4 linked regions of the Homo sapiens genome follow. The protein of the gene in region 3 interacts with the protein of the main gene of each other region in a pairwise test. Each region holds a gene or a part of one and is shown on either strand. Other genes may lie near its edges.

Region 1 (7,022 bases), on a different chromosome or scaffold from region 3:
CAGAAAGGAGTCTCCTCATTTTATGGATGGAGAAATCAAGGCCCTGGAAGCTTGTTCTAAGCCATCCAATGAGTTAAGGTTTTCCAATGCTTCCAGTTAGATTATAATTCTAACAGGTCTGACTAAAAGCCCTTTCTGGTAAATTGTACAATCTTTAAAATAGCTATCCTTCTACAGCAGCTTGGAGTCCCTACACATTAGAACTCCACTAAATATTAAAATTAGTCACTAAGTCTGAGCAACCTAATTGACCGCTCTGTTGAATCTTACCCTTTCCTATTTCAGCTCCACCGGCCTTGACTTGAAAGTAGGTAACCAAATATAGTTCATCTAGGAAGGGGGAAATTGGTAAAGGCAAGAAATGATATAAATAAGCTGCCAGACCAGGATCTTGTGTGAACACGATACCAGCACCTCCAACACCACATAGAAGCTGAAAGAGGGGTTGAGCCTCTCAACCCTTGTCCTGGGAGCTTCAAGTATGGTGAGGCACAACTTTTATTAAAAGAGTTTACAAACAGAACTATTAAACACACACACACATACACACACACATATACACACACACCCCAAAAAAAGATACACTCTCCACGCCCACCCACAGATAGGAATGTTGGCTAAGGGATAATCCCTCAATAACAGGGACTGATGGCATTGATCCCCACAGCCTAGAGCTGAGACAGGCTCTGTCTTCATCACTGTCCTGGGGCCAGCACGTCTAAGGCAAAAACCTGCTGGGAAGATTAAAGGAGCTCCAGAAAGGAAGAGATCTTTCAGGTTGAGGTTTTTCCCTAAGGTCCGTGAGGCAGGTCCCTAGAGTTAAAGGCACATTATTGGAGAAAAGGCCCCTGGATGTAGAGAAGAAAGGACTCTTCTCTGGCACCAACAGCAATAAAATTTACTGGTTGAAAACATCCTGCATCTGGGAGAAGGAAGAAGCTTTATATATAAATCTCTTCTAGTTTCTTGTTCTCAGTTGAGTTGGCAGCTTATCTCTTTTCTAGTCTCTTTAGCTCTCAGTTGAGTTGGCGGCTTGTGTAGTAGAATAAGAAAGAGCTGGCAACCAAAGTTGGAGGCTGGACCGCAGGAATCTGGAATCACATGCTATGGGCTGGCCTCAGGAGGTGAATGAGTTTCCTGCAGTGTTTGGCAGAGGCAGGCCTAGGACTGCTGTGTGGCAGTGACTGATTCCCCAGAGAGAGCAAGGATAGTTTCTCACTGGCACCCAGGGACACCAGTACCTGTAGGATAGAGAACAGATGATAGAACAGAACATGAGGCTCAGAAATGGTGGTGTCTGGGGCAGGTGCGGAGGACTCTCATTTACCCAGGAATTCCCACTCGAGAAGAGGAAGAAAAAGGAAATGGGCTCTTGGGGACTTGGAATAGACTGAATGGCAGAAGAGAAACCTTGGAGATAGGAATCATCAGGACCAGAAGTCTACTTCCATTCTCTTTGGTTATAGACCATGAAACCAAGGCACTAAGGGACACATATACTTGTCCCCAGGAAGACTTGATGAATGCAGCAGTAACTCACAGTAAGCCAAAAGGTCTAATTCCTAGCCTTCAATGCAGACCAGTGAGTTCTAACCTCATTACCACCAAGAATCCCATTAATTATTTTCCCCATGGATTGCACAAGATTCCTATAGGATCTTCACCATCGGCCAGGCAAGGTGGCTCATGCCTGTAATCCCGTACTTTGGGAGGCCAAGGCGGGCGGGTCACGAGGTCAGGACATCGAGACCATCCTGGCTATCACGGTGAAACCCCGTCTCTACTAAAAAAAAAAAAAATACAAAAAATTAGCTGGGTGTGGCGGCAGGTGCCTGTAGTCCCAGCTACTCGGGAGGCTGAGGCAGAATGGCGTGAACCCGGGAGGCAGAGCTTGCAGTGAGCCAAGATCGCGCCACTGCACTCCAGCCTGGGGGCGACAAAGTGAGACTCCGTCTCAAAAAAAAAAAAAAGATCTTCACCATCCTCTCAAATTTCTGCTCTGCATGAACTTCCCAATGCTACCACTTTGAGATGTCATAATTTATATTACCATATGTAGATATCTGTGATTTCCAATGGGCTTTTTTTTTTTTTTGAGACAGAGTCTCGCTATGTCACCCAGGCTGGAATGCAGAGGCATGATCTCCGCTCACTGCAACCTCCTCCTCCCAGGTTCAAGGGATTCTCTTGCCTTAGCCTCCCGAGAAGCTGGGATTACAGGCGCCTGCCACCACACCCAGCTAATTTTTGTATTTTTAGTAGAGACAGGGTTTCACTATGTTGGCCAGGCTGGTCTCAAACTCCTGACCTCAAGTGATCCGCCCACCTCAGTCTCCCAAAGTGCTGGGATTACAGGCAAGAGCCACAGAGCCTGGCCTACTGGACTCTTTATATACTGAAAATCGCGGTCAGGCAGGGTGGCTCACACCTGTATTCCCAACACTTTGGGAGGCTGAGGCGGGTGGATCACTTGAGGTCAGGAGTTCAAGACCAGCCTGGCCAACATGGTGAAACCTTGTCTCCACTAAAAATGCAAAATTAGCCAGGTAAGGTGGTGTGTGCCTGTAATCCCAGCTACTTGGGAGGCTGAGACAGGAGAATCACTTGAACCTGGGAGGCAGAGGTTGCAGTGAGCCAACATTGTGCCATTGTACTCCAGCCTGGGCAACAGAGCGAGACTCCATCTTAAAAATAAATAAGTAAATAAATAAATAAATAAATAATAAAAATACAAAGATTAGCCGGGCATGGTGACAGGCACCTATAGTCCCGGCTACTCAGGAGGCTGAGGCACAAGAATTGGCTGAACCTGGAGGCAGAGGTTACAGTGAGCTGAGATTGCGCCACTGTATTCTGGCCTGGGCAACGAGTGATATTCAGTCTCAAAAAAAAAAAGAGTGGCTCACGCCTATAATCCCAGCACTCTGGGAGGCCAAGGCAGGTGGATCACCTGAGGTTGGGAGTTCGAGACCAGCCTGACCAACATGGAGAAACCTGTCTCTACTAAAAATACAAAATTAGCCAGGCGTGGTGGCACATGCCTATAATGCAGCTACTCGGGAGGCTAAGGCAGGAGAACTGCTTGAACCCGGGAGGCAGAAGTTGTGGTGAGCCGAGATCATGCCATGCACTCCGGCCTGGGCAGTACGAGTGAAACTCTGTCTCAGAAAAAAAAAAAAGGAAAAAGAAAGTTGCGCAGAAGAGGAAGGATAAAGTAGTGGTTAAGAGTACGGGCTCTGGACTCAGACTTCTGAGTTCAAAAGCCCAATCCTACATACTGTCCTTGTAATTTGGACAAGTTATTAAATTATTTGTGCCTCAGTTTCCTCATCTGCAAAATTAGGATAATAATAGTTTAAACCAGATAATAAAGGTAAAATGCTTAGCATCGTGCTTTTCTCATGGTAAGTCTAAAAAAAAAATAGTCAGCACCTTCATGGCACACAGAGTAAAACTACTCTATCTCAGCATCTCTTAGTCTTCCCTCATCTCCCTCCTGCACAGCCTCTAGAAGAGATCAACTGTGGTCCTTGAGATCTCAGACATTTCCCAGCCCATTGGAGCCCTCTTCTAGCTCCCTTCCCTCCTCCAAGGCAGGAGATGTAACTAGAAAACTCACTCCAAGACACTGTCCCTGGGAGAAACACGGCATAAGTTTCTCCATGTCCCGATTCCAATTCCTTACAGATGATCTCAGAGAAATGTTGTCAACTATAGGGGCCCTGATCATCATGGTTCATAAGTGCTGTAGGGTATACCTGATGGATGCCAGGCTCCTGTTGCAGGCTCCGGAGGGCAATGAGGGCAGCCTCCTTCACATTTGGCTGGGGGTCTCCACATGCCATTTCTAGGAGCCGCTGGGGTACTTCGCACTGTAACAGCTCCTCTCCCAAACCTTCAGGTCCCAAGTTGCCCAGAGCTGATGCAACATTGCGCCGGATACCAGCCTGAGGATCTCCAAGCAGCTGGGTCATACTGGGCACTGCAGCTGCCAGGGCAGGTCCCAGAGGACCAGCCTGGTAGGCTGCATTGCCCACAGCAAAGCTGGCACTGCACCGCACAACAGGATCCTTGTCTCCAAGCCCAAGCAGCAGAAGGCTGAGCAGTCCAGACTGGCTCTGCAGTGCCCCACGCAGGGCCATGCTGTGTTGGAGCAAGTGTCCCAGGAGCCTATAAGTGTGTGCCCGCACAGAATTCTCTGGGTGGCCCAGGAGGCTGCGCAGGGGCCGATAGGATTCATCAGAGCCAGCCAGAAGCTCTTGGATAAAGGACAAGTGGCTGGGAGACAGGACCCTGGCAGTATGGGCCAGCAGAGAGAGAAGGTCGGAGGTCAACAGTGGCTGGTCACTCAGGAGGGCAACTGAGAGAAACGAGACGATGGTTCTAGGGGAGGCAGACACTGTGTTCACAAACTGGTTGAGAGAGGTGGGATCCATGAGGGCCAGGCGTGTGAGAAGGCTGATGGGCAGCTCCACTTGCATCAACGGAAGATGGTAGCAGCAGACCTGAGAGAACAGGAGGTAAAAGGATTCAGGGAGAGAGAGAGTATATGCAGCTATAAAGAAGCCCAAAACCTGGGAGAGAGAAAAGCCAAGCTATGGTGAGAAATGCCACAGAGAGCTGGAAGTCCTGCCCCACAGCACTCCACATGAGACACAACGTGGAGCCTGAGAGAGCAGGTTCTTTCCAAGATCATTCCTTACTTTGCAAGGGCTCAGTCTCTGCCTTCAAAGACCCACTGTGAAAAAACAAAAAGAAACAACAAAAGAACAAAGACCCACTGTGCAATGCCAAGAATTGCCAGAAACATGATTCCTGGCCAAGGAGGTGAGTCTTCAGTGCCTAGACTAGGATGTTCTCCCCAATGAGCACCAACAGAACCAGGTGATGGACTGATGGAGAGGAGGAGGCACCAACCCAGCTCCCACCACATGCCTCCACCACATGCGCAGGTCTGAGTACTGTCTCCACGCCAACTTTTGAGTCAAGCCAGCTGTTCCATGCTTACAGGGGCCTAGAAGAGCCCTGGAGCTGCTGGGAAGTAAATTAGAGGATACAAGGTTGGCTATCTTCCTCTCCCACCTTCATGCTAGCTGCCCAAGTACCTGCAGCAGATGGGCTGCAACTTCTGAGTCCCTGAGGTCGGCCAAGACACCTATAAGGAGGTCAGCATCCATGTCCAGCGCAAAGGGGAAGCAAAGGAGCTGGCAGACAGAGAGCACCACGACAGGGAGAAACTCAGACCCATGAGGCCTAAGGAGAGGAATGTCGAAGAGACTTGGTCTTGTTCACTTAACCTTTATCATTCCTCCCTCCCTCCTCCAATTCCTTTGCCCAACTCCCCTTCTACAGTCTCAGCCACTACTTAGGTTTCCAGCCTAAACCTGATCTCATCTTTCTTGCTTTATAGCTCAATCTGTCAGTAACTTCTTTCCTGCCTTCTTCTTTCTCCCTCCCCGTTGCTGACTCTGTGGCTCTCTTCTAGCTCAAACTCACGCCTGGCGCAGTTGATTCAGGAAGCTGGGGCAAAGCAGATGCTTCAGGATGGACATGAGGATACTTCCATGCTGGGACAGGCAGCTCAGGCATAACTGGGGCTCCTGGGTAAAGGTGGCCATGGCCAGGCTCAGCAGGGCTGCCATGCCTGGTAACACCAAAAATGGAGACCCAATGGAACAGGCAAGACGCCCAGATACCCCTGCTTCCCCACAGCTCCCAGGGCTACACCTATTCAGTCCCTTCCCCATCTTAGAGCAGCTCTAGTGCAGACACTGCTTCCTGTCCCCAGGCAAAAGCAAAAAAAATAAACCTCTGTGGGTTAACCCAGTTCTGGGCTGCCTCCTCTTGAAGAGAGATCAATGCACTCCCAAAAAGGATACTGATAGAAAGATACCCTGGGGAGAAATCAGTGTCCAGTCTGGCTCAGGGCTTGGTGGACTGGATAGCGAAAGCTCCCCTTCCTGTGCAGATGCCTCCTCGGGGAGCCTCAGGACCATGGAGAAGCGGTGCCACAAAACGGTCCACATTTCTGAACTGGACATATCCCTGATTAGGCTAGCCTTCCCCTGCTAGAGATAAAAGTGAAAGAGGGCGGGGGGAAAGACAGAAGTCAGGAATCCAAATGCTTTTATTCATTCCTGTCCCTGACTTACAAGTAAAGGAAGTCCCAGAAATAATTCCTTCCGCTTTCCCACCTAGTATTTCCCTGTCGTCTTATTTCATTTTCTTATCAAACCTTAACCCTCTGACCTCACAACTCATGTGTATGTCTGCTGAAACCCAGGGAATTCATTTTATCTCCCACTGGATCCCAGGGGACGCAGCGAATGGTTTCCTTCAAAGGGTCAGTACTGAGGGCAGGCGGGGAAGTTCCAAGGCTATCACAGGCACAGTAGCTTGAGAGGGAAGGCTGTGGGTTGCTTCTTCATTCCTCTGGTCCAGAGGCTCCCCAAAATGCCCAGTTCCTCTCTCTTTACTTCCCATCCATCCCAAGATCCATCTGTACCTCAGTGAGGAGCTGCAACAGAAGGATAAGGAGGCCATCATAGAATCCACAACTACCTGGTGGAGTCAACCGAACCTGTCAGAGAGAAACATGAAGAATGCAGGTGCCTAAGAGGAATGGGGTGTCCGTTAAACCAAGGCAGGTCAGTGATGGTGCCATGGAGGGAACAGATTTGAGAGTCAACCGGAAGGTAGAATATATGGGGCCTGGGGGAACCATTTCGGTGGGGGAATAATGGGGAAGAGAGAACAGTCACTGATGACTCCCAAAGTTCTGACTTAGACTTCTGGATGAGTGTTAGTGCTATCACTAGTGATACAACCTCTCTGAAGGCTAACTTAGTCTAGAAAAAGCAGATGAGTATTATTACATTGGTGTGTCTATATTTCAAGTGTGTTGTGGGATAACATGTGAAAATGTTTTATAAATTATAAAGAATTCAGCCACTGAGGTAGCTCACGCCTGTAATCCCAGCACTTTGGGAGGCTGAGGCGGGGGGATCAGGAAGTCAGGAGTT
Region 2 (7,022 bases), on a different chromosome or scaffold from region 3:
CTGGGGCCCACCCTGCCCCCCGAGGCCCATCGGGTCTTGCCTGTCGGGGGCTTTGCTCACTGTGGCCCCTCAGGCAGTCCTGCCCAGTGGCTCCCACATCCAGTAGGTGGGGAAGGAGTGGTACGGCCCGCTGAGGGCCCCATGAGGGCCGGGTTCTAAGGGGAATCTGCCTTCACCGTCTGGTCAGCCCCGTGTCCTCTGCACCAAACATCTGGGGCTGAATCTGAGGACGGAGCCCGCAGTAGCTGCTGTTCTTCCACACTTTGTGTCACCCCCAAAGCTCTTAAAAACAGGCATTTTCAACTTTCCCATTCAGGCTTAAAGAAACCCTTTCCCAACAAAGAACTCAAACCCTTGGACTTTGGCATGACAGCTCAGCAGGCGGTGAGCCTGCAGGTTCCCCGATCCACCAGAAAGGAGGAAGCTGCCAGTGCGTCCCTGGCTCCCGCTCCTTCCCTCTGCCCTAGCCCTGCACAGTCCAGAAGGGGACCCTGGCTCTGTCCCTCCCCAGGGCTGGCTCCCAGAGCCAGATAGGGGGTCCCGGCTGGGATGGTCCAGCACAAAGCCCTCGGGGATGCACTCAAAGGCCGCCCTCCAGGGACCAGGAGCTTGGCACAGGTCACCTGGTCTTTCCCTAAGGCAGAGCCTTCCATGGGGAGACATGGGGAGATTTCTCGGCCCCCCACTCCTCACCCCAGAGTCCATGGGGAGATTTCTCGGTCTCCCACCCCAGAGTCCATGCCATCAGCCTGGAGTCTCTGTCACAGCCCTAACCACCCCCAGCACAGCAGCACAAACGGCCAGGCCCATTCCCAGGATGTGCCGCTCCCCATTTGTGGAATTCCCACAGCCCCTCCTGCTCTGCCCGCCCCTCCCTCCTTCCTTTCAGGCCCCTGTGGACGGTGCACACACGGGAACCCCTTGGGCACCCTGGCTGCTCTCCTGACTCCACCTGGACACGGCCCCAGGCTCCATCTCAATTCTTCCTAGACTGACGACACGACACTTTGGAAATGGACTTGACACACAGCCAGCCCCAAGGGAAGGCTGGCAGTCGGATAGAACAGGGAGCCCAGAGCTCAGGCTTGTAAGGGCACTCGCCAATGTGAGGGAGCAACCCAGAGCTGAACATGGTCATCACACGGCCAGAGTGCAAGGACCACCTGCTGCTCCTGCTTATCCTCCACAGGGTCCCCTGCTCCTCAGACACACACACACATCCCGCTGCTCCTGAAACACCCACACATTACCGCCTGCCACTCACAAACCCATGCACAACCCCTGCCACTCACACACCCACACACTCCCCCTGCCCCTCACACACACACACACTCCCCCTGCCCCTCACACACACACACTCCCCCTGCCCCTCACACACACACACACTCCCCCTGCCCCTCACACACACACACTCCCCCTGCCCCTCACACACACACACTCTCCCCCTGCCCCTCACACACACACACTCTCCCCCTGCCCCTCACACACACACACTCCCCCTGCCCCTCACACACACACACACACTCCCCCTGCCCCTCACACACACACACTCCCCCTGCCCCTCACACACACACACTCCCCCTGCCCCCTCACACACACACACTCCCCCTGCCCCTCACACACACACACACTCTCCCCCTAACCCTCATCCACACTTTTTGCCTCGGGCACTTCGCTCTGGCTATCCCTTCCCTGGACATGCTTCCCCCTAACCCACAGGGCTGGCTGCCCCCTCTGCCCCAGGGATGGCTTCCTGACTGTCTTTGGTCCTTGGTGCCCAGGAGTGCTGCCCCATGGGATATTTGGGTCTCATTTGAAGTGGGATCCCCACTGCCTACAGGGCGTGATGGGCACTGAATGTTTATTGAATGAATATTAAACTGGAGAGAGCTCCTCCATTGCCCAGAGCGCTGGCTGCTGCAAAGTCCAGCATTTTGGGCTACCTCGATAAGACGGATGAGACCATTCAAGCTCCTAAAAGTGGTTGGTATGCTAAGGGTATTGGCTGCCTGTGACCCGAGTTCTATTCTGTGTCCCAGGAGGGTGCCAGGTTGGGCAGTTCCAGCACCAAGTCAGGGCCTGCCCAGGGTGTGTCTGCATCTTCCGAGGTCTGGCAACATCAGGATGGGGCTGGGTTTGTCTGTCTTATTCCAGAAGGCATATAGCTAAGGCATAGCTAAGATTTCAGCTGACAGTGGAGCATGTTTTAGGCCAGGTGAGCGTGGTTTCTCTCTGGGCACATGACCCACTCCTGAGAGAGCTCTGTGTGGGGCAGATGGTGCTCACCATGCTGAGCCCAGATCTGCCAAAGTGCTCTGAGCCGATGCTGCAATTGCTTGTCAATGATCCCACTTTGCAGGTTAAGTCTGCCACTCCTTGGCAGGCGGCGCCTCTAAAGCCATTGTCATCCAGAAGTAGGTGTGCTGCTCACTGGAGGCTCTGCAGTAATTTAAGGAAATAATTCAGCCGAGGAGCTGAGACAGCCTCTTCCTGGGCCCAGTGTCCAGATGGTTTTGGATGAAGCTTACACATGGGAAGCCAATGTTTATCCCTCCACTCCTTCACTCTCCCATGTGTGCATTCATCCATCCATTTGTCCATCCACTCATTCGTTCATTCCTCCTTCACCCACCTGTGGGTGCATCCATCCATCCACTCATCCATCCATCCATCCATCCACATATCTACCCATCCTTCCGCCCATCCCTCCATTTACTCATCCATTCACCCATCCACTCACTCATCCATCCATCAATCCACTCATCCATCCACCAACCATTCACGCATCAGCCATCCATCCATCTGTCCATTCACTCACTCACTCATTCATCCATCCATTCACTCATCCACCTATCCACTCATCCATATATCCATTCATTCACTCATCCATCCATGAGTTCACTCACCCACCCATCCATCAATCCACTCATCCATCCATCCATTCACTTATCCATATATCCATTCATTCATCCATCCATCCATCAATCCACCCATCCAACTATTCACTCATCCATTCATCCAAGCCATCTATCCATCCACTCATCCATCCATCAGTCCACTCATCCATCCAGCTATCCATTCACTCATCCATCCATCAATCCACTCATCCATCCATTCACCCATCCATCCATTCACCCATCCACCTATCCATCCATCCACTCACTCACCCATCTATCAATCCACTCATCCATCTATCCATTCACTCATTCATATATCCATTCATTCATCCATCTATCCATCCATCCATCCATCCACCCATCCATCCATTCACCCAAGCCATCCAGCCATCCACCCATCCATCCATTCACCCATCCATCCATCCATCCACCCATCCATCCACTCGTCCATTCACCGAAACCATCCATCCATCCAAACCATCCATCCATCCATCCATCCATCCACTCATCCACCCATCTGACCATTCACTCATCCATCCATCCATCCACTTATCCATCCATCCACCCATCATCCATCCATCCATCCATTCACTCCATTCATCCATTCGCTCATCCACCCTTCCATCCATTTACTCATCCATTCATCCATTCATCAATCCACGCATCCATCCATCTATCTATTCACTCATCCATCCATCCATCCACATGTCCATTCACGTGCTCAGATCTGCAGGACTCTGCTGGGGACAGGCACTGGGGACACAGGAGGAATAAGACAGACAACCTCTGCCATTGTGGCATCAACCTGGTTGAGCCAAAAGACCTTGGAGGAGGAGGTGTCCTCAGGAGCTCAGAGGAGGAAGGCTCCGAGCTCAGGAAAGGTGGAGCAGGAGAGATGCTGAGTGTGAAGGGATGAAGCTGGGGTGAGTGCATGATTTGGGGGAGGGTGGAGTCTGGCATCCCAGGACCTGGTACCCTGAGACCTGGCACCCTGAGACCTGATACCCTGAGATCTAGCACCCTGAGATATGGCACTTCGCGACCGGGCACCCTGAGGCCTGGCACTTGGAGATCTGGCATCCTGAGACCTGGCACCCTGAGACCTGGTACCCCAACACCTGGTACCCAGAAACCTGGCACGCCAACACCTGGCACCCTGACACCTGGTATCCTGAGACTCTTGTCTCAAGGGTGGGTGAGGAAAGCCTTGGTGGCTTCATCGTGCACTGAGACTCCTGGTTGTGGGACTCAGCCCAGACGCTGGGCAGATGATGTGCAGGATGGGAACCCCAACTCTAAACATGCCCCAGTGCAGCCCCTGGCTCCTGGAGAAGCCGGCAGTGGGGGTGGCCACGCTGGGAGAGCTCAGCCATTTCTGCAGTAGACATGAGGCTGGTTGGGTGCTGGAGCTTGGGCCCAGACAGGCATCTTAACAAGCCTGTGTGGTCACAGGGAGCGCCACACACGCCCAGAGGCGGGGAGCTCCTGGGGTGGCAGGGAGTGGGCTGGGGGGGCTGGCGGCCAAGAGTGACTCACCATCCCTGTCTCTCTCTCAGCCTCTGGCGGAGCTGCCAGGTACCCACAGGGAGCCCTGGTGGTTCCTTCCCTGCCCCGATGCTATCAGCACTTCCCAACCTTTGCCCCTTTCCTCAGGATTCTCCCGGGCGACACCTTAGCTCCAAACGCCATGGATTGTTTTATAGCCTACAGCTGATTCTCCGTGGGCAGCTCCTGGAAAATGAAACTTCACCCCTTCAGGGCCAGACCCTCCCCTGTGGAGACTCCTGGGAGAGTCTTTGCTTCCAGGCCTCCCGTGATGGCTCCTGACTCCAAACCCACTGAGCATACCTCTCCTGCCAGGACTGGGGTCCACAGGGCCCACTCACTGGTCCTCTCCTGGGAGGACTGGGTCCCCTGGGGACTTTGCTGACCACCCTGGCCTTCTAGGCCATCCTTGTCCCCAGAACCTCCTTTCCTATGCTTCTTCAAGGAGAACCTAAGGGCAGTTCAGCTGGAGTGGGTAGCAGATATGGTGAAGGGGTAGGTGCTGTGCGCATTGAGGGATTCCTGCCTCCAGGACCAGAGCACATGCAATAAAACCATTCACCCCAGGAGGTGAAGGTGACCCACAGCTGCCCTCACAGCCTGGGCACTGAGTGCCCGGTGGAAGGCTGCACCTGGGAGAAATCCACAGCTTAGGCAGGTGGTCTAGGCAGTGTCACACCCCCAGTGGCGGAGGCTCCCTGGGACACGCTGGGTAAGACAGCGGGGGTCCGGGAGTCAAGTGTCGGGTGAGGACGACCTCCTGCACCCACCCAGACAACAAGGAAGCACCCAGTGCCTCAGATTTGGGGCCGGGAGCAGGGAACCTGGCGCTCAGGGATCTGGGTCTTGACCCTGTCCAGTTAAGGAGGAGGTGCTGGAACCCCAAGGCTGAAGCTCCTGCAGAAAAGCATTCCCACACTCCCACAGTGGGGGTAACGCCGCTCAGAGGGGGGTGGGGGGGCTGCGCCGCTCAGAGCAGGGGGCTGCACTCCTGACCCTGTGCCCTAGCGTCCTCCTGACCCTCCTACGGCTGCGCGAGGCACTGCAGACTCCAGATACCCGTCTCGCTCCTGCCTGCCCTTCCAGCCAGGGTTCACCAAGATGTGGGGCGGCCTGGGCCTCCGCCATCACATCCCTCAGCAACACAAGCTCCACTTCGAGAGCCTGCCCCCACCGCCCCCACCCAGCCCCACTGTCCTGGTTTCCCCGTGGGCAGTCACTGCCGCTGCTCAGGTCCTAACCCTCAAGGCGCCACCTCCCTGAGCCAGCGCTGCCCAGCTCTGGAGTTCAGGCCCCATGGGATGTCAGCTCCCACACCTCCTGTGCGTCCACGACCCAAGGGGTACCCACGGCCAGACGCCTGGGGACAAATAGACCCAGCTGGGCCTAGAATCCACTCCCGGCCCCAGCCCCTCCCCGGTTTCCGACATCTCAAAATTGTAACTCCCCCAGTTCCCTTTTGGTCGGGTCCTGTCGCTCATGTGTGGCTCAGAGCTGCAGGGCGAGGTCAGCGCAGCAGAGCCCCCCGAAGGGTTGAGAACAGGATGGGGCCAGGAGGTCTGGCCCCTGCTGTGTCACTGATGACCCTGTGACATCCCCACTCCTGCTTCAAGGAGGCCCTGCTGTCCACCGCCCTGATGCCCAAGGGAAGCTCCCCACCATCCTCCCGGAATCTCCCCGGTGCCATTCTCTGCCCCATGGCCAGGCAGTCGTCTGAGAACTCAGATCTGACCACATCCACTCCTCACCACGACGCTAGGTGGGGACCAAAGTCCTCCAAGGCCTGTAGCTGAGTTGCTCGGGCCTCCCTCTGCCTCCCCAGGGACCCACCCTAGGCCTCCTCCTCTGGCTTCTGACACCCCCGCCTCCCTCTCCTTCCAGGGGCCCATTGCTTGCAGTCCTGACACCTGCCACTGCCTGGATCCCACCCCAGGGCCCCCACCCAGTGCTGCCAGGCCTGGCAGTCTCTGCAAGGCACAGCCTCAGCCCCCAGAGGAAGCCCAGGAAGGAAGGAAAGCCTGGCCCAGGGTTCCCAACACGGACGGTGCAGGGTGAGGCGGGGATTCTGGTGGGCACCTAAGGCCTAGAGTGGCCCTGGTGCGGGTGGCTGCAGGCTGGGGGCCCCCAAGGGGCACAGGAGGAAGCCCCCTCACCCTGCCTGAGGCAGACACTAGGCCCTGCCGCCTCCACTGCTAAAGACTTCCTCGTCCTCTCAGTCTGGGAGGTCTGCGCTGTGGAGTGGCTCCGTGGCCTCGGCCCTTGCCTCCCCTTCTGCATTTTAAAAAGATGCTGTAAAAGGCAGGGGAACCCCAGTGCACACAAATAGGGGGCTTGTGGGGAGCCCTTGCCGGAGCCAGACACGCGGCCTGAGGCTGGTGGGCCAACAGCAGCACCTGTTCCTTGCCCAGGCTCCTGGGCCACCTGCTGAGGCCCCAGCCCCAGTGTTTGCTTGAGGCAGCTCTGGCCCTCTGGCCATCCTCTGTCCCAAGCTGCCTGGAGTAGAAATCTCCTGGGATCAACATTGCTGTGGGTTTCAGGGTACCCGGACTCTTATTTCCCCAACCAGGTTACAAATGGCTT
Region 3 (7,022 bases):
CAACTTACAAGGGACGTGAAGGACCTCTTCAAGGAGAACTACAAACCACTGCTCAGTGAAATAGGATACAAACAAATGGAAGAGCATTCCATGCTCATGGGTAGGAAGAATCAATATCGTGAAAATGGCCATACTGCCCAAGGTAATTTTTATAGATTCAACACCATCCCCATCAAGCTACCAATGACTTTCTTCACAGAATTAGAAAAAACTACTTTAAAGTTCATATGGAACCAAAAAAGAGCCCGCATCGCCAAGTCAATCCTAAGCCAAAAGAACAAAGCTGGAGGCATCATGCTACCTGACTTCAAACTATACTACAAGGCTACAGTAACCAAAACAGCATGGTACTGGTACCAAAACAGAGATATAGATCAATGGAACAGAACAGAGCCCTCAGAAATAACGCTGCATATCTACAACTATCTGATCTTTGACAAACCTGAGAAAAATAAGCAATGGGGAAAGGATTCCCTATTTAATAAATGGTGCTGAGAAAACTGGCTAGCCATATGTAGAAAGCTGAAATTGGATCCCTTCCGTACACCTTATATAAAAATTAATTCAAGATGGATTAAAGACTTAAACGTTAGACCTAAAACCATAAAAACCCTAGAAGAAAACCTAGGCATTACCATTCAGGACATAGGCTTGGGCAAGGACTTCATGTCTAAAGCACCAAAAGCAATGGCAACAAAAGCCAAAATTGACAAATGGGATCTAATTAAACGAAAGAGCTGCTGCACAGCAAAAGAAACTACCATCAGAGGGAACAGGCAACCTACAAAATGGGAGAAAATTTTCGCAACCTACTCATCTGACAAAGGGCTAATATCCAGAATCTACAATGAACTCAAATTTACAAGAAAAAAACAACCCCATCAAAAAGTGGGCGAAGGACATGAGCAGACACTTCTCAAAAGAAGACATTTATGCAGCCAAAAAACACATGAAAAAATGCTCACCATCACTGGCCATCAGAGAAATGCAAATCAAAACCACAATGAGATACCATCTCACACCAGTTAGAATGGCAATCATTAAAAAGTCAGGAAACAACAGGTGCTGGAGAGGATGTGGAGAAATAGGAACACTTTTATACTGTTGGTGGGACTGTAAACTAGTTCAACCATTGTGGAAGTCAGTGGGGCGATTCCTCAGGGATCTAGAACTAGAAATACCATTTGACCCAGCCATCCCATTACTGGGTATATACCCAAAGGACTATAAATCATGCTGCTATAAAGACACATGCACACGTATGTTTATTGCGGCACTATTCACAATAGCATTTACTGTTTTTCTTTCCTTGTATCCTATTTACTACTCAATCTTCTGCCTTCCAGTTTCCCTTCCCACCAGTCTACCAAAACTGTTCAGGCAAAATTCACCAAGGAACTCACTGGCCAATTGCCAAATCCTGTGGCCACTTTCAGTTCCCATCTTCTGCCACCTCTCGGTGGAGCACAGTGAATACTTCCTAAACTTCCTTCCCCAGTTGTCAATTCACTGTTCTCACCACTCTTGCTGCCTCTTCACAAGTTCCTTTGCTGCCCACCTCTTCCTACTGGTGTGTCACAGGGCACCATCCGGCATGCCTGGTCTCCCCTTTCTCTTTCCTCCACTCTCTCTCTGATGTCTTGCCACCTGCTCCCATGTCTTCAGTTGTCATCTCTACGCTGAGGACTCCCACATGTGGCTGCCACTCTTACTGTTCTCCTGAGCTTCAGATCAGTGCACCCAGCTGCCTGCTGGACTCCTCCACTTTGACTTCCCTATATTGGTTCTTATTCTTTGGTTGCACGTAATAGAAACTGATTCAGAATAGTTTAAACAGTAAAGGGAAACATTATAAGAGTAAAAGGAGTAGGTCTTAGAGAATTGAAGCGAGGGATATAACCAGGCCTTAAGAAGGAACCAGAACTAGAAACCAGAAGCTCCAGGAAGCTCAGGAAGTCTTCATTCTTCCTTTTTCTGTATGCATCTTTTCCTCTATTTCCATGGTAGGTATGCATCTCTTTTCACAGTTCTTAAACGGTTCTGCCACACTGACGTTAACAGTTGTCTTTCTATCCTTTTTTAAATTCCTAGGAAAGTGATCCTCTCTGGTCAGCTATTAGAGGTGGGAGGGAAGGTACAGACACACAGTACAAATGTGGCTCCTAGAAACCAGAGCAGTTCTCAGGAAAAAAGAGAAAGGCCCATCGGCCAAGCAGATACCCAAGAGACTCTCATATAGGTGCCTGAAACTGCACGCCCAGAACTGAGCTTATCTTTTCTGCCTAGCTGTTCTTTCTCTAAAACCAAATGCAGTACATTCTTTACCTATCACCTAAATGGCTTCTTATAGTTACTATTTCACTTATTCATTGTAATTTTCCTAAAATTGAAGTTGTAGTTGCCTTCTGTCGTGCTTCTTTCACCCCTTATCTGCTTCTGTAGTAACCCACGTCTATCCCCTTGTCTGCATTCTTCTGCCTTGACCTATGCCTTTTTCATCTGAATTATTAGAGTTGCCTGCTAATGGGTTTTCCTGCATTTAGCCTTGCCCTCTTTAGTGTACTCTCTACACTGCAGCCAGAGTGATCCTTCTGAAGTACTTTCTGGTCATATGACTCCTCAGCTTTGAGGTCTTTCTACTCCTTACAGTCTAGGGTGGAAAGTGAACATCAGTGAAGGCACCATTGAGAGCTGCCCCTTGAGCTAGGGTCTGGAGGGTAAGTGAGGCTTGTTGGATGGAGGAGCAGGTACAGCTGTATGTCTGTGTGGCATTTCTTGGTGTCATGTAGTGTTCTAAAGCAGAAATGGTTCCCTATGAGCAACTCGCTCCCTCTCACAGCCAGCCAGCCTTCTCTGAGTTCCTTGCTTTGCGGAGCTCTCTATGCTACCGAATTGTTTCTCCCTGGAGTCAGCTCTGCCCTGTCTGGTCCTGCTTAGCCCAGCCACACTGGGCCAATAGATTAAGCAACGCTTCTTTTCTCTATAGGCTCATGAGCGCTCAGAGAGCTCAGAAGTGGCTTTTGTGATGCAGCTGGTGAAAAAGCTGATGATTATCATTGCCCGCCCAGCACGTCTCCTGGAATGCCTGGTGAGTGGACTCTAGGAAAGTCAGGTGGGCAGATTTAGAGGAGGACTATAGAGGAAGTATCCTGATGACAGCAAAACTGTGGTGGTAACCACTGCCATTTCTGTTGCTTAGGTCCTTATTTAAATATGATTTGCCACCATTGGGGGACTAAACAGGTTTTTGTGAGGACAAATGTATGGTCCTGAGGGGATGCGGCAGGGAGAATTATTAGTCTAGGCCACCCCCACATGAGCAGGGCTCACATCAGTGGGGGTCTTGGGGGTGAGAAGCGTCAGGAGCATAGCCCAGTTTAGTTTGTACAAGTTGAGTCCTTCATTTTATCTTCAGCAATACTTGACTGAGTACCTACTTCCTGCTAGACACTGGAGATACAGACATGAATAAAGCACAGTCTCTGATCTTGGGATGTTTCCTCTACAGTGGAGTTGGGAAGCATGAGGCATGAGGACATGTAAATAGTAATTACAATACTGCAAGAAGTGTTGCAGTTGAGGTCAGTACACAGCGTAACGGGAACCTGGAAAAGGAAGTGCTTTAGTCTTCCCTGGAAGGAACATTCAGTGAATGCTCCCTGGGGGACGTGAGGCTTATTCAGCAAACTGAAGGATGAGTCTAAGTTTCCCAGATCGGGAGCATGGGAAGGAGCATTCAGTGGGGCACAGGGTGGGTTTGAAGAAGTGCTGAGGGGTAAGCCTGGAAGGTAGGCTGTGACAGGGTCATGGAGGGTGTCGGGTTCTCGGCTCTGGAGTTTTTCATTACCCTTACGGCCACTTGGAGACACCAGAAAGTTTAGGTAAGAATGTGACATGGCCGCATTTACTTTTTTCTTAAAAAATATTATTAAGGTATAATTTTCATACAATAAAATATATCCCTTTGATGGTACAGTTCATTGAGATTTAACAAATACACACTTGTAGAATCGTGGCCACAGCTGACATAGAGAATATTTCTGTCATATAAGTTCCCTTGTGCCCCTTTGAAGTCAGTCCTCTCTTCCTCCTGCTCCCAGACAATAACTTAACTGCTTTGTTTCACTAGGGATGGGTTTGCCTTTTGTACAGTTTCCTAGAAATGAAACCATGTTTCTGTGTGGTTTCTGTAGTATGTTCTGAATTCTTTCACTCAGCATGTTTGTAGAAATTCATACATGTTGTTGCATGTATCAGTAATTGGTTCCTATTTATTTCTGTGTAAATATTACATCAGATTTAGTCCTAAGAAAGATTACTTTGGCTGCAACATGGATAGTGAATTGGAAGAGAGGGCAGGATGAGCCAGGGACATCAGGGGAGAGGTACTCAAAGCAAATTCATGTGAGATGGGGTGGCCAGAACTCAGACAGTGAATGGTAGGATAATAGAGAGAAAGAGGTGGATTAGAGGGGTATTTATGAGAGAGACATTCTGACCAAATAGGAGCTAAGGAAGGATAAGAAGTTAAAAGGACTTCCAGGTCTGGCGTAGGTTATATCCAGATAGGTACAGTTCTCCAAAACAGTGAGGCCACAGGGAATGAGAACAGAGTTCAGGGCAGAGGCTATGCTGTGATAGAGCAGAGAGCCTCTCCCTCAGGAACATGAAGTCCTTGGCTAAGCAGGGGCTTGGAGTCAGACCTGGGCTGAATGCTGGTTTTCTGTTCCTTCCTACTACTGTGATTATGGACAAATCAGTGCATCCCTGAAAGCCTTGATTTCCTCAGTGAGGTCAAAGAGTTGCTAGAGGGTTTAACCCAGTGTGTGGCACTTAGTAGGCACTCAGTTATTATGTGCAGACAAGGATTGTGCTTTTCAATGGATTTCCAGCCTCTAGCACATAGGAGGTGCCCAGTAAATATTTGAAGGTATACATGCACCAGTAGGGCTTTGCCAAAGCTCTTGTGAGCCATAATTGAGTGTGTGCCAGGACAGCTGTGGACTGGGCATCTGAATACACCAGACAGTGCCACCTGGCTGATGGAAAGCATGGGACCAGATCAATAGGCTGAGCTCTCTTTAGAGTAAAACCTCTAGTTCTTACTGCCAGGAAGACAGCATATGCTTAGCATGTCCAATCTGGAGGTGACCTGTAAGACATCTTTGTCCCCATTCCTGTGATCCCTGAATCATGTTGTTTCTGAATATTCAGGGGTGGGAGTGTCCTATCACAGAGAAAGTCTTGTTCATCTCAGTCTACTATATGCTGTAAAACCAAAGATGCCAGCAGCTTTCGCTTATATCTGTCACCACTGACTATCTCTCTCCCTTGGTACAGGAGTTTGACCCTGAAGAGTTCTACCACCTTTTAGAAGCAGCTGAGGGCCACGCCAAAGAGGGACAAGGGATTAAATGTGACATTCCCCGCTACATCGTTAGCCAGCTGGGCCTCACCCGGGATCCCCTAGAAGGTGAGCATGCTGCCTAGTGGCTGCAAAGAGGCCCCACTGCTGCTGGCAAGCTCTAACAGCAGGGAAGCTGCTTGGAAAAGAGACTTAGCTTGGACATGGACACAACATGGCCCCGGGGGCCTCAGGATTTTAGGAGATACCCTGTGATCTCTGTGACAAAACAGTCTTTACTTTGGAACTGCTGTTCACATCTGCCTGATAGATCCCAACCTGGATTGCATTGGCCCGGCTGAGTTGCATTTAGAACCTCAGTTCCAAAGAGGTCAACAACAAAGGGCCACAATCACATTTGCAAAAATGGTCACCTCCTCTGCAACTTGCCTCTACTCTTGGCCACCTTACAGGTCTTCCTGTGTCTTTGGGGTAGTCCAACACAGGGCTTCAGAGGATACTGCCATTCTTCTGGGCTTCCTGCTGAACCCCTGCAGCAACCATGGGCTTCCAAGTCCCTGGTCTGTAGGTATCCTGCTCCTGCCTTCTGTGCTTCCCAGCCCCATCCAGTGAAGCAGTCTTGGCCAGCAGGATGGGAACTAGTAACCCAGTTTCAGGCCCTGTTTTCCAGGAAATGTCCCCAGTTTATAGAATTTGCCAGGCCCTGTGAATGGCAATGGACTTCTGGAAATGGGAGTAGCAGTAGGATTTGGCTTGTTTCCTGATCCAAAAGCTGGGACTACATTGGGTATAGTGCCATGGGACTGAATTCACATCCTAGGCTGATGCAAAAAGCATTAATGACTACCCTACATGCACCTGTTGTGTGATCTGAGGATACTGCTGAGATACCTGACATTGCCACGCACATTCTTCTCTTGTATCTTTGTTTCCAGAAATGGCCCAGTTGAGCAGCTGTGACAGTCCTGACACTCCAGAGACAGATGATTCTATTGAGGTAAAAACCCTGAGCTCCTACCCCATTCCTGGAGCCTGGGCCCTATGAAGCAAAGAGCTATGAATTCTCTTTAAGAGAATATCTGAGGAAGGGATGGGGGAGTTGGTGACAGCAAACACTGAGAAGTCATTCTACTCCCAGAAGAATGAGCAGGAGACTGCACTAGAGCTGACAGCTGAGAAGATGCTAGAGCCACAGCTTCTGCAAGGATATGGGCTCTGAGAAGCATGCCTGTCTCCTGCCTTTTCCCTTGTCTTCCAGGGCCATGGGGCATCTCTGCCATCTAAAAAGACACCCTCTGAAGAGGACTTCGAGACCATTAAGCTCATCAGCAATGGCGCCTATGGGTAAAGGCAGGGGTCAGGGTGTGGCCAGGACTGAAGCCGGGTCAGCCTTTGATCTCTTCCATGTGAGAGTGTATGCTGCCCAGTCCTCTGGGCAGATGCCTCGGGGTGGACCTTCTCACTCCCAGAAGCCTCCTGGGTGGGCAGGAGTTCAGATTCCTCTGACATCCGATCATTGTTCCTTTCCCAGACAAGATTCCCACGCCTCTTACTACCACGCATCCTCCATTCCCTGAGCTCTGGGGAAGCATTGAGCCGTGTCATCAGGACATGGTCTATCAAGAAGTTTAAGAGTTCTATGGACCAGGGGGTCCCA
Region 4 (7,680 bases), on a different chromosome or scaffold from region 3:
CTGCCCAGAATGTCTTTCTTTGCCTTCTGCCTACATGCAAATCCTCTCCATTCTGTAAGGCCCAGATCAGCTGTGGAGCTGTGTTCAGGCAGTTGGTGGCCCCCACTCTGGGCTCCTCATTTCCTGGTACCCCAGCAAGGGGCAGGAGCAAGGCACAAATGGAAACCGAGTGAATGGAGTTGCCCCTGGGCTGGGACTTGCGGACAGGCACCCGCTTTTCCCTGCTGGGGCAGCCTCAGGCCAACGCATGGGTGTGAAACAAGGTCCCAGTCACTGCACAACCGTACCCCTGGGCTCTTTTCTCTGTTTGCTCCTTTTAAAAATGGGAACTATTAACCGGGCGCGGTGACTCACGCCTGTAATCCCAGCACTTTGGCGGGCCGATTACGGGGTCGGGGTCAGGAGATCGAGACCATCCTGGCTAACATGGTGAAACGCCGTCTCTACTAAAAGTTCCCCAAAAAAAAAAAAAATATTAGCCAGGCGTGGTGGCGGGCGCCTGTAGTCCCAGCTACTTGGAAGGCTGAGGCAGGAGAATGGCGTGAACCCGGGAAGCGGAGCTTGCAGTGAGCCGAGATGCCGCTACTGCACTCCAGCTTGGGTGACAGAGCGAGACTCTGTCTCAAAAAAAAAAAAAAAAAAGAGAACTCTTGGCTAGGTGTGGTGGCAGTCCAGGCCAATACCAATAGTTCTCATTTTTTAAAGGAGCAAACACAGTCCAGCACTTTGGGAGGCTAGAGTGGGAGGATCACTTGAGCCCAGAAGGTTGAGGCTGCAGTGAGCCGAGATCGCGCCACTGCACGCCAGCCTGGGCGACAGAGCAAGACCTTGTCTCAAAAAATAAAAATAAAATAAAGTAATTTAAAATGGGGACTATCTATATTCCAGAAATTACTGCTTCCTTGTTCTCAAGCCCTCCGGCCACTACTGTTGTTTCCCTGCTCTCAAAAAATGCCTGGACCAGCCTGACCAACATGGTGAAACCCTGTCTCTACTAAAAATACAAAAATTAGCCAGGCATGGTGGCGCACACCTGTAATCCCAGCTATTCGGGAGGCTGAGGCAGGAGAATCACTTGAACCAAGGAGGCAGAGGTTGTGGTGAACTGAGATCGCACCACTGCACTGGAGCCTGGGCGACAAGCAAGACTCCATCTCACAAAAAAAAATTAGCCAGACGTGGTGGCGTGCACCTGTAATCCTAGCTAGTCAGGAGGCTGAGGCAGGAGAATCGTTTGAACCAGGGAGGCACAGGTTGCAGTGAGCCGAGATAGCGCCTTGCACTCCAGCCTGGGCAACAGAGTGAGAATCCGTCTCAAAAAGAAAGTGCTTAGGGAAGGACCAAAAAGGACACAGAGAAGAATCAGGGAGACTCTGGCCCCCACGCCATGAGATGTGTAGTCTCCAGGAATCCTCACTGGTCCCACCTGGCCCAGGAGGTGCCAGCTCTTCAGCCTTGGCTGAGAGGAGGCTTCAGCCGCATCTCAGAGCAGTCCACGGTGCCAAGATTTTCTAGAATTTGGAACCACTGGGAGTGAGGATACCCGGACTGCCCAGGACCTCCAGGAGGGTCAGGGTGGGGAGGTGGGTCCTCCTTCAGTGTGGGGAGCCCCCGGGGTGCACTCAGCCACGATGCTACAGAGCTCCCCCAGCACCGCCACCGCTACACGGCCAGCTCGCCATGCACTTTCACTTCTGCTTTTTCATTTACTTCTCACAGCTGTTCCCAAGCAGGAATTATCCTATCCTATTATTCCAAGGAAACCGAGGCTCATAGATGCCCAGAGATGGGTGAGCCAGGGGCAGCAGGTTAGACCCAGGCTGCCTCCAAATCCAGGGGTCCCTGGGCAAGCCTTGGTCTGGGCTCCGTTGATCCAGGAGGCCGTGCCTGCACCCACAGAGCGGACTCCAGCCGAGCCTGGGTGCCCGGAGCAAGGATGTGGGACCTGAGCACGCAGCTCCCCGCCACGGGCCCTCCCAGTGCCTATGGCCCAGGCCACCTGGCCCAGCAGACACATACAGACTCAAACAGCCCTGGGTTCAGATGGCAGCATTTCACATATTTGTTGTGCAACCCCAGGCAAGCCCTCTCCCCTCTCCAGGCCTCAGTTTCCCCTGCTGAGAAGCAGAGTGAGGATAAAAATCAAGGGGTCTACACACGGGCCATGACTTGTTTCCATCTGCCGGACCTCGGTGCTCACTGGGACCCTGCCTTGTGCCTGGTGCCCAACCCAGCACAGGCCTGCCTGAGTGACGCAGCATGGCCCCGACTCTCAGCTGGGTCACCACCTCCTCTACCAGGGCAGAGAGATGTGCAAGGCCCGGACTGGGCAGAGCTGGGGCCAGCCTGGGTCAGTCCCTGCCTGACACTTCCTAGCACTGGCTGAGGTGGCACTGGGCTCGGTCATAGGCCACATGCTCACCTTTGCCTCAGGGCTTTTCAGGCCCTTTCTGGAACTCTTCTCATCCCCATTTGATAAATGAGGAAACGGAGGCCCAGAAGAGTTAAGTAGCCCACCAAGGTCAGGGTGGAGCTGGGATGTGAACCGAGCAGCTGGGGTAAGAGCCCAGGTCAGCTTCCCCGTCCTCAACCCCTGAGCATCCTATGAAGGGGTCAGGCCAGTTACCTCGTTTCCCTGGGGTGCCTGCCTCCCTTCCATCCTCTGAAGAATCATCCCTTGAGGACTTGGATGGGAAGGGGGCCATCAGCCCCCAGGGAAGGAGGTATTATTATCCCATGTTTACCAAAGAAACAGGCCTCACAGCAGGCTGGGACCTGACCCGGCTCTGCCCCATCTAGCGTGTGACTTCCCCTGCCCAGCTTCAGGGGAGACTTTTAAAGACCCCCAAGCTTGCCTTGGCTCTAGGGATCCCCCCAACCCCCACATTTCTCTGGCCCAGAGACCCCCGATGAGCTGGATAGTCCCTACCTGTGTCCCCTTCGCCACGGAGGCGGCAGGCAGGCGCCGGACAGGCGCTGGCACACAGGTGGGCACCCTCTGCGGCCTGCAGCTATGTGGCCAGCAGACTTTGGCACCATCTCCACCTCCACTGAGCAATCATTAACCCTGCCAGAGACCACACCTCCCAGGAGGGGTCGACTCCTAATGAGGCAGAGTACAGCTGGGGGCGCCGGACAGGAGGAAGGGACCAAGGCGCCAGAGCTCCTGGCGCTCCTGGGGCTGGAGGCCCACACCACAGGAGAAGGGGCCTGGCCGACCCTGAGCCCAGAGGACCTGGGAACAAGGCCCAACACTGGGGCAGGCTGGAGGCGGGGACGGTGACAGTCAGAAGGTGATGCCAGAGCCCCCGTCCCCTCCCTGCTACGAGTCTTCAGTGACAGGGGATCTGTGGACAAGTGGGGGATTGAGTCAGGAGAGGGAAGTGGTAAAACAGTGTAACAATCAAACACTGTGTGGCCAGACCAGCCCCTGTGAGGTTCTCGTGGAGGACTGGGGGCTAGCTGAGCCTGGACAACCCACTTTCGAGCCTGTTGACACTGATCTCACCCCGCATTGAGACCCTCAAAAGGCATCTGCCCGTCCCCAGGGGCTTCATCCACTCCCAAGTTGCCTTTTTTTTTTAATTATTTATTTATTTTTGAGTCAGAGTCTTGCTCTGTCACCCAGGCTGGAGTGAAGTGGCACAATCTTGGCTCACTGCAATCTCTGCTTCCTGGGTTCAAGCAATTCTCCTACCTCAGCCTCTCGAGTAACTGGGATTACAGGCGTGGGCCTCCACACCCGGCTAATTTTTTTTGTATTTTTAGTAGAAACAGGGTTTCACCATGTTGGCCAGGCTGGTCTCGAACTCCTAACCTCAGGCGATCCGCCTGCCTCGGCCTTCCAAAATGCTGGGATTACAGGGATGAGCCACGGAGCTCGGCCCCCAGGCTGGCTTTAAGCGCTGCCCGATGTGGTGGCCTCCCGAAGGGGCTCAGCCACAAGTCCTTCTTATCCTCACTTTGGCCCAGCCATCACAGTTGACACAGAAAGGGGACCCTGGGCACAACTTTCTTAAGGCACACCACTGAGTCGTCACCATTGGGTGGCCCTCTTCTTGTGGGCAGAGGACATGTCTAATTCACAATAGATATATAGTCATGCACCATATATCTGTGTTTTGGTCAACAACGAACCACACATATAATAGCGGTCCCATAAGAGTATAATATCATCTTTCATGGCACCCTTTCTGTGTTTACATGCACAAATACTTACCCCTGTGTTACAGTTGCCTGCAGCGTGCGGTACAGTCCCAGGCTGCATAGGTTAGCAGCCCAGGAGCACAGGCGGTGGTATAGAGACTGGGTGTGTAGTAGGTGGTACCGCCTAGGTTTGTGTAAGTCACTGTGTGATGTTCACACAATGACGAAATTGCCTGATGACACATTTCCCAGAAGGTGTCCCCGTTGTTAAGGGTTGTGTTGACTGTATATCAGGCAGTTGCTATAGTCAGGCATTTTAATAGTTTGCTTCCCAACTCTCCAAATGTAAAACATAGTAACAAAATTTATACGCCACCAGCATAAAAAGAAGAAACCCAGATGAAGGGAAGTCAAGTGAGAAAAATAAGGGTAATCTACGCCTGAATTGAGGCCATAAAATACTTGTCTTGAGCTGGGGGCACTGCTGTGCACCTGTAGTCCCAGCTACTTGGGAGGCTGCAGCAGTAGGATGGCTTGAGGCCAGGATTTCTGTGCTGTAGGGCACTATGCTGATGGGGTGTCCACACTAAATTCAGCACTAATATGGTGAACCCCAAGGAGCAGAGGACCACTAGGTTGCCTCAGAAAGGCTGAACCAGCCCAGGTCAGAAACAGAGCAGGTCAAACTTCAGGTGCTGATCAGTAGTGAGACTGTGCCTATGAATAGCTACTGCACTCCAGCCTAGACAACAAGAGCTTCTCTCTCAAAAAATAAACAAATTATATATATATATATATTTGCCTTCAAGTTCTGGGTAATTGTAGAGATGGGTCATGAATCAGGTTCTGAGCTTCCCCCCAGGCAAAGAAAAAAGGGAATTGAGATCCATTGAGTCCAGCATCCATCCATTTTAAAACATTTGCATAGGCTGGTGGCTCGCGCCTGTAATCCCAGCACTTTGGGAGGCTGAGGCGGGTGGATCACCAGGTCAAGAATTCGAGACCAGCCTGGCCAAAATGGTAAAACCCTGTCTCTGCTAAAAATACAAAAAATAGCTGTGCACGGTGGCAGGTGCCTGTAATCTCAGCTACTCAGGAGGCTGAGGCAGGAGATTCACTTGAACCCGGGAGGCAGAGGTTGCAGTGAGCCAAGATTGTCCCACTGCACTCTAGCCTGGGTGACAGAGCAAGACTCCATCTCAAAAAAAAAAAAAAAGACCAAAAAGACCACTTTGCGTATAGCCAGGCTCTGGGAGCTATGATGCAGTTCTGAGTTTTGATACCCAAGAGGCTTTTCCTCTTTTTGAGAAGTGTTTCTGAGGAAAGGATGCTGCAGACACTGGGTAGCGCTCGATGCGACTATTACAATGCAGGGGTTAAGAGACCAGAGACCAGGCTCCTCTGGGGTCAGACTGCTGGGTTCAATTTTTTTTTTTTTTTTTTTTTTTTTTTGAGCACCATGTTGGCCAGGCTGGTTTCAAACTCCTGACCTCAGGTGACCCACCCGTGTCGGCCTCCCAAAGTACTAGGATTACAGGTGTGAGCCGCCCTGCCCAGCCACAATTTTTAATTTCATTTTATTTTTATTATTTTTTTTATCTACTGTATATTCACAATGGGTTCAATTTTGGCAGGGCAAGTTGCATAACCTCTCTAAGACGGTTTCCTTATCTGTAAGTTGCAGGTAATACATGATGCCTACCTGGGCAGGTGATGGTGAGGATGTAATGAAGTCACCCATTTGAAGTCCTGAGCACAATGCCCAACACAATAAGGTCTCAATGAATGTTAGTTTTCGTGGGGGCATGGTGGTGACTATTGCATTACTAATATCACCTCATTTAATCCTGCCAATAACTCCAGGGATGATTTTTTTCCCCATTACAGATGGGAAAATAGACCTTAGACAGATTAGATCACCACCCGAGATTACAGAAAGTGGCAGAACTGAGATATTAGCATATCTGTGCAACAATTCTTGCCCCTGACTTTCCTGCCACAGCCGTCAGATTCCTCTCTGAAGGAAGTAGGCACTAGTCATCGCTGGTGGCTTAACCAGTAAGAAGAGAGGCAGGTGACCCCACCCAAGGCTCCAGGCTCCCCGCTCTGCCTCAGACCATGGGAGTCAGCCTGGTCGCTCTGCTGTGCCCCAAATAGGGCAGACCCCAACCCAAGCCCCTGCCCCCTCTCCCTGCCCTTACGGCTGAGGCCGACAGCTCTGAGTCACTGCTCTGGTTGACAGAGGTGTGTCCTGGCCTGCCCAGACCTTTGGACCCATCACGATGAGGCACGTGTGGCCAGATGGTGCCCTGCCCATCTCGAGGGGCACCATCCACCTGCCACAAGGCAGCCTGGGAAGCACACAGGGATCTGGGCTATGACGATCCAGGTCCAGGTCTAGGTCCAGGGTTGGCTTCACGGAGCAGCAGGCAGCCAGGCAGAGTGGGACTAAGAGCCCAGGATATGGACTCAAGTGACCTGGGTCCTAATCCCCACCACCACTTACCTGCTGGGGGCTTGGGCAAGGTACACCACCTCCCACACTATTGGTGTCCTTGTCCAAAATGGGCCTAATGCAGACTCCACCTCATAGGCCTGTTCTAAGGAGTAATGATGTAATGCATGACAGCACTTAGCACAGAGTAAGTAATGGGGTGATGTGCACGAGGCGACAGTTTAGATACACATCAGGGTTCCTTCACAGCCACTGTCTGAAGTGTGTGCCTTAAAATTTTTTTTAATCAGAAAAACTTCTCGGCCGAGTGCGGTGGCTCACGCCTGTAATCCCAACACTTTTGGGACACTGAGGCAGGCAGATCACTTCAGGCCAGGAGTCCAAGACCAGCCTGGCCAACATGGTGAAACGTAGAACATGGTGAAACCCCATCTCTACTAAAAATACAAAACTTAGCCCAGCGTGGTGGCGTGCACCTGTAGTGCCAGCTGCTCAGGAGGCTGAGGCACAAGAATCGCTTGAACCTGGAGGTGGGGTGGGGGGAGATTGCAGTGAGCCGAGATTGCACCACTACACTCCTGCCTGGGTGACAGAGTGAGACTCTGTCCCCACCCCCCACAAAAAAAGAAAAGGAAAAAAGAAAACTTCTCATTACCTGTCTCTGCTATGTGCACCCACTGCATACTCAGAAATTTATCAAGTTGAAATCAAGCGTTAGCTTGCCCTGAAGTTAGGCAAGTCTCTCCTTCCCTCTGAGCCGCCATTTCTTTACCTGTAATACCTCTGACGCCCACCTAGTGCACAGCCTTAGAGGTGACCCGGAGAGTCTGGGCTGAGAGTGACTCTGGTGTGAATGCATTCAACCCCTCAACTTCCCAATCATCCCCGGAAGTTGCACTTTGCAGGGTACAAAGTCCCTTCGTTGCTCTTACAGACAAGGAACCAGCCCAAGAATATCCCCGTGATGTCACAGACTCACAGCCTCCCACCCTAGAAAGAACTCGGGGCTGGGCGCGGTAGCTCACGCCTGTAATCCCAGCACTTTGGGAGGCCGAGGCGGGCGGATCACCATGTCAGGA

What was found.
Region 1: the proteins of MAST2 (region 3) and STK36 interact in a two-hybrid assay, tested with the Homo sapiens proteins (one study listed by BioGRID and IntAct).
Region 2: the proteins of MAST2 (region 3) and SLC9A3 interact in a two-hybrid assay, tested with the Homo sapiens proteins (one study listed by IntAct).
Region 4: the proteins of MAST2 (region 3) and CDHR2 interact in binary tests that used the Homo sapiens proteins (3 or more experiments, as listed by UniProt).

What each region holds. Positions count from the first base shown.
Region 1 is NC_000002.12:218,696,085-218,703,106, reverse strand, and holds the end of STK36 (serine/threonine-protein kinase 36), read right to left. Parts: intron 6,581-7,022; coding exon 6,506-6,580; coding exon of another isoform or gene 6,473-6,505; exon of another isoform or gene 6,110-6,472; intron 6,069-6,109; coding exon 5,894-6,068; intron 5,645-5,893; coding exon 5,497-5,644; intron 5,254-5,496; coding exon 5,106-5,253; intron 4,506-5,105; coding exon 3,759-4,505; intron 1,242-3,758; coding exon 1,098-1,241; 3' UTR 392-1,097; downstream 1-391.
Region 2 is NC_000005.10:514,439-521,460, forward strand, and holds part of SLC9A3 (sodium/hydrogen exchanger 3 isoform 1 precursor), read right to left. Parts: intron 1-7,022. UniProt on the Homo sapiens protein: Plasma membrane Na(+)/H(+) antiporter. Exchanges intracellular H(+) ions for extracellular Na(+) in 1:1 stoichiometry, playing a key role in salt and fluid absorption and pH homeostasis.
Region 3 is NC_000001.11:46,016,610-46,023,631, forward strand, and holds part of MAST2 (microtubule-associated serine/threonine-protein kinase 2), read left to right. Parts: intron 1-2,986; coding exon 2,987-3,088; intron 3,089-5,340; coding exon 5,341-5,473; intron 5,474-6,300; coding exon 6,301-6,362; intron 6,363-6,623; coding exon 6,624-6,709; intron 6,710-7,022. UniProt on the Homo sapiens protein: Appears to link the dystrophin/utrophin network with microtubule filaments via the syntrophins. Phosphorylation of DMD or UTRN may modulate their affinities for associated proteins. Functions in a multi-protein complex in spermatid maturation.
Region 4 is NC_000005.10:176,544,664-176,552,343, reverse strand, and holds the start of CDHR2 (cadherin-related family member 2 precursor), read right to left. Parts: upstream 3,003-7,680; 5' UTR 2,930-3,002; intron 1-2,929. UniProt on the Homo sapiens protein: Intermicrovillar adhesion molecule that forms, via its extracellular domain, calcium-dependent heterophilic complexes with CDHR5 on adjacent microvilli. Thereby, controls the packing of microvilli at the apical membrane of epithelial cells.